2 linked regions of the Homo sapiens genome follow. The protein of the gene in region 1 interacts with the protein of each later gene in a pairwise test. Each region holds a gene or a part of one and is shown in the gene's direction. Other genes may lie near its edges.

Evidence for each region.
Region 2: the proteins of ZNF175 (region 1) and LPXN interact in a two-hybrid assay, tested with the Homo sapiens proteins (one large-scale study listed by BioGRID and IntAct).

Annotation. Positions count from the first base shown.
Region 1 is NC_000019.10:51,584,654-51,588,310, forward strand, and holds part of ZNF175 (zinc finger protein 175), read left to right. Parts: intron 1-1,973; coding exon 1,974-3,657.
Region 2 is NC_000011.10:58,544,736-58,548,392, reverse strand, and holds part of LPXN (leupaxin), read left to right. Parts: intron 1-3,657. UniProt on the Homo sapiens protein: Transcriptional coactivator for androgen receptor (AR) and serum response factor (SRF). Contributes to the regulation of cell adhesion, spreading and cell migration and acts as a negative regulator in integrin-mediated cell adhesion events.

The DNA of each region.
Region 1 (3,657 bases):
CCTATTTTAATAAGTGGGAAAAGGATGTGAATAGACATGTCTTCAAAGATGATATACAAGTGGCCAATAATAGGAAAAAATGCTCAACTTCACTAATTATGTGGGAAATGCAAATCAAAACCACTGGGTGATATCCCTTTACATCCATTAGAATGGCTACAATTAAAAAAACAGAATAACAAGTGTTGGCAAGGATATAGAGAAACTGGAATCCTTGTGTATTACTAGTGGGAATGTAAAATGGTGTAGTCCTATGGAAAACAGGATGATGATTTCTCAAAAATTAAACATAAAATTACCATATGATCCAGCAACTCCACTTCTGGGTAGATACCCACAAGAATTGAAAGCAAGGACCCAAACAGCTGTTTGTACACTCTTGTTCATAGCAGCACTATTCACAATATCCAAAAAGTGGAATTGTCCATTGACCAATGAATTGGTAAACAAAATGTGGTCTATACATACAATGAAATATTATTCAGCCTTAAAAAGGAAGAGGAATTATGAAACATGTTGCAGTGCGGATGAATCTTATCATGATGCTAAGTGAATAAGCCAGACACAAAAAATCCAAATGTATCATTCTACCTGTATGAGGTACTTTAAGTAGTCAATTCATAGAGACAGAATAAGATTGTGGCTGCCAGAGAATGAGGGATGGGGGAAAAGGGAAATTGTTTAATGGATACAGCATTTCAGTTTTGCAAGATGTAAAAGTTTTGGAGATCCATTGCACAACAGGGTGAATACAGGTAGCACTACTGAACTGTACAATACAAAATGGGCAAGATGGTAAATGTAATATTATGCACTTTTGCTACAATAAGAAAAAGTTAACAATAAAGATTAAAAGTGTCCTTTTTTTAAAAAAAGAATGAAAGATGATTGAGTTTTTTTGATAGGACAAGAGTCTGGGATACAGTTTAAGTGACTGAAAGCGAAAAGAAACTACATGTGATGTTCATACTCAGTATTAAAATCTGGTAGAAAAAGTAATAGTAAAATTTAGTAACTATTATTTTTATTGAGAACCTGCTGTGTTTTGTGCAGTATACTAGTAAAGTGCACAGGATGATCAGGGACTCTTATTCTTGGCAAAAAAACAAAACAAAACAAAAAACTAAACTAAAAAAGGCATATTTGATAGCATAAAGCCAAAAGTTCTAACAAAGAACAATTAATTTCAATGGAACAAGGGTGAAACAAATTCTGGGGAACAGCTTGCTTGTCCAGTCTTTTAGAATATATTTCTGGGGATATGGGTATATTCCTAAGTTCAAGAAAAAAAAATTGTAGCTTCATGGAGAGTTGAGGCATAGGAGAGTTGAGGCATAGTCATTCTTTCACTGGTTGGCCATGTCAAGATAGGTGAAGCTTTAATAGTTTTCAGAAGGATATACAGGGCTGATGGACTTGGCATTGTTTCTAACAAGTAAGATAAAGCAGGCAGATTGGTGAGGATTCATCTCTGAAAGTTAATGAAGACCTACACACTGAGCCCCCTCCTTCAAGCCTTGGCTGCCCACACATGTTGCCCTGCAACACTTGTCTGTTTTATCCTACTCATCCTACTAGATCTGGGTGTCTAGACCACTTGCATAAGTGTCCTCAGGTTGTTGAAATCTAATCCCCACAGATTAGCAAAGTGATCTTGGCCAATTACATAACCATTATGTGCTTCCTTTTCTTTGTAAAACAGGAACACCCATCATCGCTACCTCCTGAGGTTATTATGCAGATTAAATGAGTATGTGTGCACCATGTAGGCCACTGCCTGGCACATGCTAAGTGCTATGTAGATAAATGCTCATCATGTAATAAGGGCTCTGTGTTTCTGCTCATTGTCAGCATCATTAGCAGCATTATTACATGACTCAGCAATTTCCTTGTGTTCTGTGTCAATCAGCTTCATGCAGTTTCTCCTCTTTCTTGTTCATTGTGTCTATTTCATCTTCTCTTTCTCCTTTTAGAAAGGGAGTTTGGGCTTGAAATCCCACAAAAGGAGATTTCTAAGAAAGCTTCATTTCAAAAGGATATGGTAGGTGAGTTCACAAGAGATGGTTCATGGTGTTCCATTTTAGAAGAACTGAGGCTGGATGCTGACCGCACAAAGAAAGATGAGCAAAATCAAATTCAACCCATGAGTCACAGTGCTTTCTTCAACAAGAAAACATTGAACACAGAAAGCAATTGTGAATATAAGGACCCTGGGAAAATGATTCGCACGAGGCCCCACCTTGCTTCTTCACAGAAACAACCTCAGAAATGTTGCTTATTTACAGAAAGTTTGAAGCTGAACCTAGAAGTGAACGGTCAGAATGAAAGCAATGACACAGAACAGCTTGATGACGTTGTTGGGTCTGGTCAGCTATTCAGCCATAGCTCTTCTGATGCCTGCAGCAAGAATATTCATACAGGAGAGACATTTTGCAAAGGTAACCAGTGTAGAAAAGTCTGTGGCCATAAACAGTCACTCAAGCAACATCAAATTCATACTCAGAAGAAACCAGATGGATGTTCTGAATGTGGGGGGAGCTTCACCCAGAAGTCACACCTCTTTGCCCAACAGAGAATTCATAGTGTAGGAAACCTCCATGAATGTGGCAAATGTGGAAAAGCCTTCATGCCACAACTAAAACTCAGTGTATATCTGACAGATCATACAGGTGATATACCCTGTATATGCAAGGAATGTGGGAAGGTCTTTATTCAGAGATCAGAATTGCTTACGCACCAGAAAACACACACTAGAAAGAAGCCCTATAAATGCCATGACTGTGGAAAAGCCTTTTTCCAGATGTTATCTCTCTTCAGACATCAGAGAACTCACAGTAGAGAAAAACTCTATGAATGCAGTGAATGTGGCAAAGGCTTCTCCCAAAACTCAACCCTCATTATACATCAGAAAATTCATACTGGTGAGAGACAGTATGCATGCAGTGAATGTGGGAAAGCCTTTACCCAGAAGTCAACACTCAGCTTGCACCAGAGAATCCACTCAGGGCAGAAGTCCTATGTGTGTATCGAATGCGGGCAGGCCTTCATCCAGAAGGCACACCTGATTGTCCATCAAAGAAGCCACACAGGAGAAAAACCTTATCAGTGCCACAACTGTGGGAAATCCTTCATTTCCAAGTCACAGCTTGATATACATCATCGAATTCATACAGGGGAGAAACCTTATGAATGCAGTGACTGTGGAAAAACCTTCACCCAAAAGTCACACCTGAATATACACCAGAAAATTCATACTGGAGAAAGACACCATGTATGCAGTGAATGCGGGAAAGCCTTCAACCAGAAGTCAATACTCAGCATGCATCAGAGAATTCACACCGGAGAGAAGCCTTACAAATGCAGTGAATGTGGGAAAGCCTTCACTTCTAAGTCTCAATTCAAAGAGCATCAGCGAATTCACACGGGTGAGAAACCCTATGTGTGCACTGAATGTGGGAAGGCCTTCAACGGCAGGTCAAATTTCCATAAACATCAAATAACTCACACTAGAGAGAGGCCTTTTGTCTGTTACAAATGTGGGAAGGCTTTTGTCCAGAAATCAGAGTTGATTACCCATCAAAGAACTCACATGGGAGAGAAACCCTATGAATGCCTTGACTGTGGGAAATCGTTCAGTAAGAAACCACAACTCAAGGT
Region 2 (3,657 bases), on another chromosome or scaffold:
TCTTCCTGCTGAGTAGCAGTCATTCTGGTTCATTAACTTAGAATTATATCTAGTAATTACTCTTGGAAATTCCTTTTATTAGTTTCCTCTTTGGATGCTCTGTTTCCTGGGTCCCATGTCTATGTTTTATACATGTTACCACCTTTATTTTGGTGGGGAACATCCCCTAGTAGCTTTCTGAGAAAGAATTTTTGAGAACTTGAATATCTGAAAATATTTTTATTCTGTCATTGCCCTTAAGTTGCCTGGGCATAGAATTCTAAGTGGAAACTATTTTCCTTCATAATTCTGAAGACATTGCTTCACTGTCTTCTAGCTTCCATGATTGGCAAGTTTTTATTAAATTTTTTTTATCCTTGATCCTTTCTACATGACCCATTCTTCCCCCTTTGTATGTTTGTTTCATGTGTTTTCTGAATTGTCTTGTTTTTTTTAATTTCTCCTTTTTATGTTTGTTTTGAACAAATATGGAATCAGAAAGCTGCTTTACTTTGTTTTTCTCCTGTCCTTTTAGAATGAACTCAGTGGGGAAGGATTTCTCCTCTCATAAATAAAAGCTTGTGCAGTCCTCTGTCTTTTCTGATTACTGTTAAAAAACAGTTCTAAATATAAAATCAATTTAAGAAACAAAACACAAAAACTAAGCCATTAGGTAATTCAGTCTGTGTAATAGTTAAGGCTTCCAGCACTTTAAAAGTGACAGCCACTCCCTCTCTTTTTTAGGACCTTCAAGCTGCAGGAGGCGAGGACAGGGGTATGGCCTTTCCTCTCTCCTGACCTCGCTTTGTTATCTACCACCCTCACCCTTATTGCCAGCCTTGACACCTGCCTGCTCTAGGGTTGAAACACTAGGGAGGATGGAGATGAGAATAGAAGGCAGGAAGGTCTAACTTGTCTAGGATTGTTGTTAAATTGGCTTTATGCTCTCCAGGCTCAGCCAGTGTTTAGCTCTGACTTTTTTCCCTGAATTCTTTTCGGGATTAAGACAGGTCCAGCAGTGAACTCTTGATTGCCCTTTACGTGTCTTGACTAGCTATTCTCTCCTTGTCATGTTTCTTTGAGGATTTGTTTTGTAAAGATTCTTTTTTCAAGGGGCTTTCATTGTTCCCTCCTAGTGAACCCTTAGAAATTATTAACATCGTTCCAGATAATCTCTTCCTCTCATATTTTCATAGAAGGACCATGGATAACTTACTCTTTTCTCTGACAGCCAGTGGAGTTATAATTTTTAGCTGCATGTTTCTATTCAGCTGCCATAGGCTCTTTCAGCCAGACTCATCTATGGACTTTTTCCAGGGGTAACTCTGATACCACTAACTGCATCTCACTAATGCCAAGGCACACATATCCAACTCTCTGAGTCGTCCCAGTGAAGTCCCTCTTTTAACCTGAGGTTATCAAGAACTATACCTCATCTTTCTTGGTGGTGATGGGGCACTCATAGCACAGTTTTCTTCAAAGGAATCCTTCTCTCAGTTTTCCTTTTTCTTTACCTGTTTTCTCCTGAACAAGAGTGAGGAATTCCAGAATTGTACAAGTAATCTTTGACTACCTGTTTGGAGGGATGTTTTGCAGTTCAATTTGGAATTTGATATATATTACATCTTGGTGCCTTACATTTGTTTACACTGGTCTTTCCCAATACTGCTGATCCATGGTTGTCTGTTACTATTTAAGAATGAGACACTAAAATGCTAATTGCAAACTCCATGGATATAGACAGAAATTGTTGACTGGTAGACTTGACTATATGGTACTCAGGTAAGATACTCTGGCCATTTTGTTGAGTGACTCCTGAATATGACAATCTTAGGTCTTTTCTGTTGAGTCAATTATGCTAAAGAGATGTTCTCTTTGCCAGAATTCTGAGATTGAAAAAGGGGATGGGGGAATGGGCTTTTCACCATTCAGCATGTCAACTTTTACTTAATTCCCATTTTTCAGTAGAGAGCTTGACTCGTTTCCTCATGGTGTCCAACATCTCTGATCACTGAGACTCTCTTGTTCAATATTTACAGAAATAATCATTGCATCTTACGGTAAGATAAGGCATCTAACTTTCTAATGGTTCTTTAGACTTTCAACCAGTCCTGTTTCTAGCCTTGAAGAGTATCTCATGCATTCAGTTCCTGAGCCCCTCTGATGTTATCATATTCAAGATGGCTTGATTTTTATTGGCCTCTCCCATCTGTGGAGACGTAAGTTCCAGTTTTCTTATTTATGTTAAGCCAGGTACCACTCTTAAAATCTACTTTAAATTCTTGAAAATTTAGTTAATATCTCATCTGGTGGCATATCCTTTACTTTTTTCTCTTTCCTTATGGCTCTTTATAATTTACATAATTTCTTAACTGTCATGTTAATGATGTTTCAGGAGGGAGTAAAGAAAATCCCATGTGTTTAGGCCCTTTTACTAATATGGAGACTTTCCTAAATATCAGGCATATTATTATGTATATGGTTAAAAATAATTTATATGATGCCATCACAGTCTGTGAGAGCAAGTTTATTCAACATTTTACCTAGTTATAGATGAGTCTCAGGTAGGTAAAGTGATTTTCTTAAAGTCACACAGTTAGAAAGTTGAAGAGGCAAGATTTCAACTTGGGTATCATTTCTGCAAGTTCCATGTTTTTTATAAAACATCACAACTGCCTTTTGACTGAAATTCAATTCCTCTTCGGCTGTTGGATCTCTTTACTTTTGTGGTACCAACACGATATGCTTTATTTGACAATAGACCCAGATACAGTGGTGCTGACAGAATCCACTAGCAAAGTGCTCTGTAGTAATTTGCTTGTTCACTGGAGCTTGCTCAATGCTTTTTCACAAATCATTAGGTATTTCATTTCTAGATGGTATTTTACCTAAGCAGCATTTTTCATTGACACTTAATCCAAATCATCTTAAATTGTGTCACAATAAATTTATATTGTACTGGTAGCCATAAAAGTCTGAGAATTAGTTGAGTACAACAGTCAACAAGTGAATACTGCCTATGGATCATTATGATGGAGAAGTTGCCTGAAAGCAGAACAACAGGACATAGGCACATTTCAGGTAGAGACATAAGTTAGATACACACACAAAAAAATACCCAATCCATAGGATGACCAGAAAGCACCATTAAGGTAGCTAGTTCTCATTTTCTTGACTCAGGCCCCTTCTAAACAGACAGGGCTGATGGGGTCATTTATGGCTTTATATAAACAGGAAACAACACTTAAAACATATTTATACATAGAGCCACATGACAAAAAGTGACATTTATTGATCAGAAGCTCCACTTGGGTTGTATTTTCCTTTTTATGCCTGGCTTTCTGTAAAAAGGTCTCCTGCCATATGATCAGTTCATTAATTAGGTGTCATCCTGCCTCACCCCAAGTTAGATAGTCACAAAGAGTTTCTATAATGACAGTTTAACCTCTGAGCCTCCTGGGAAATTAAATTCATCTGCATTTTTTCATCAGTCCAAAGAATTCCTCTTTAAGGCTCAAGTCATTGGTCCTTGGCATCCTCCCACAGGGATGAGCTCTTCAATGTCTACCTGTGTTTCTTTTTAATTGTTCATTATCCAGGTCATGCAGGTGCTCCCTAATTTCCCCTGTGGCTAAGAGCCTCACCAGAGTATAAACACTCTCCCTCTTTTTGTGGCAC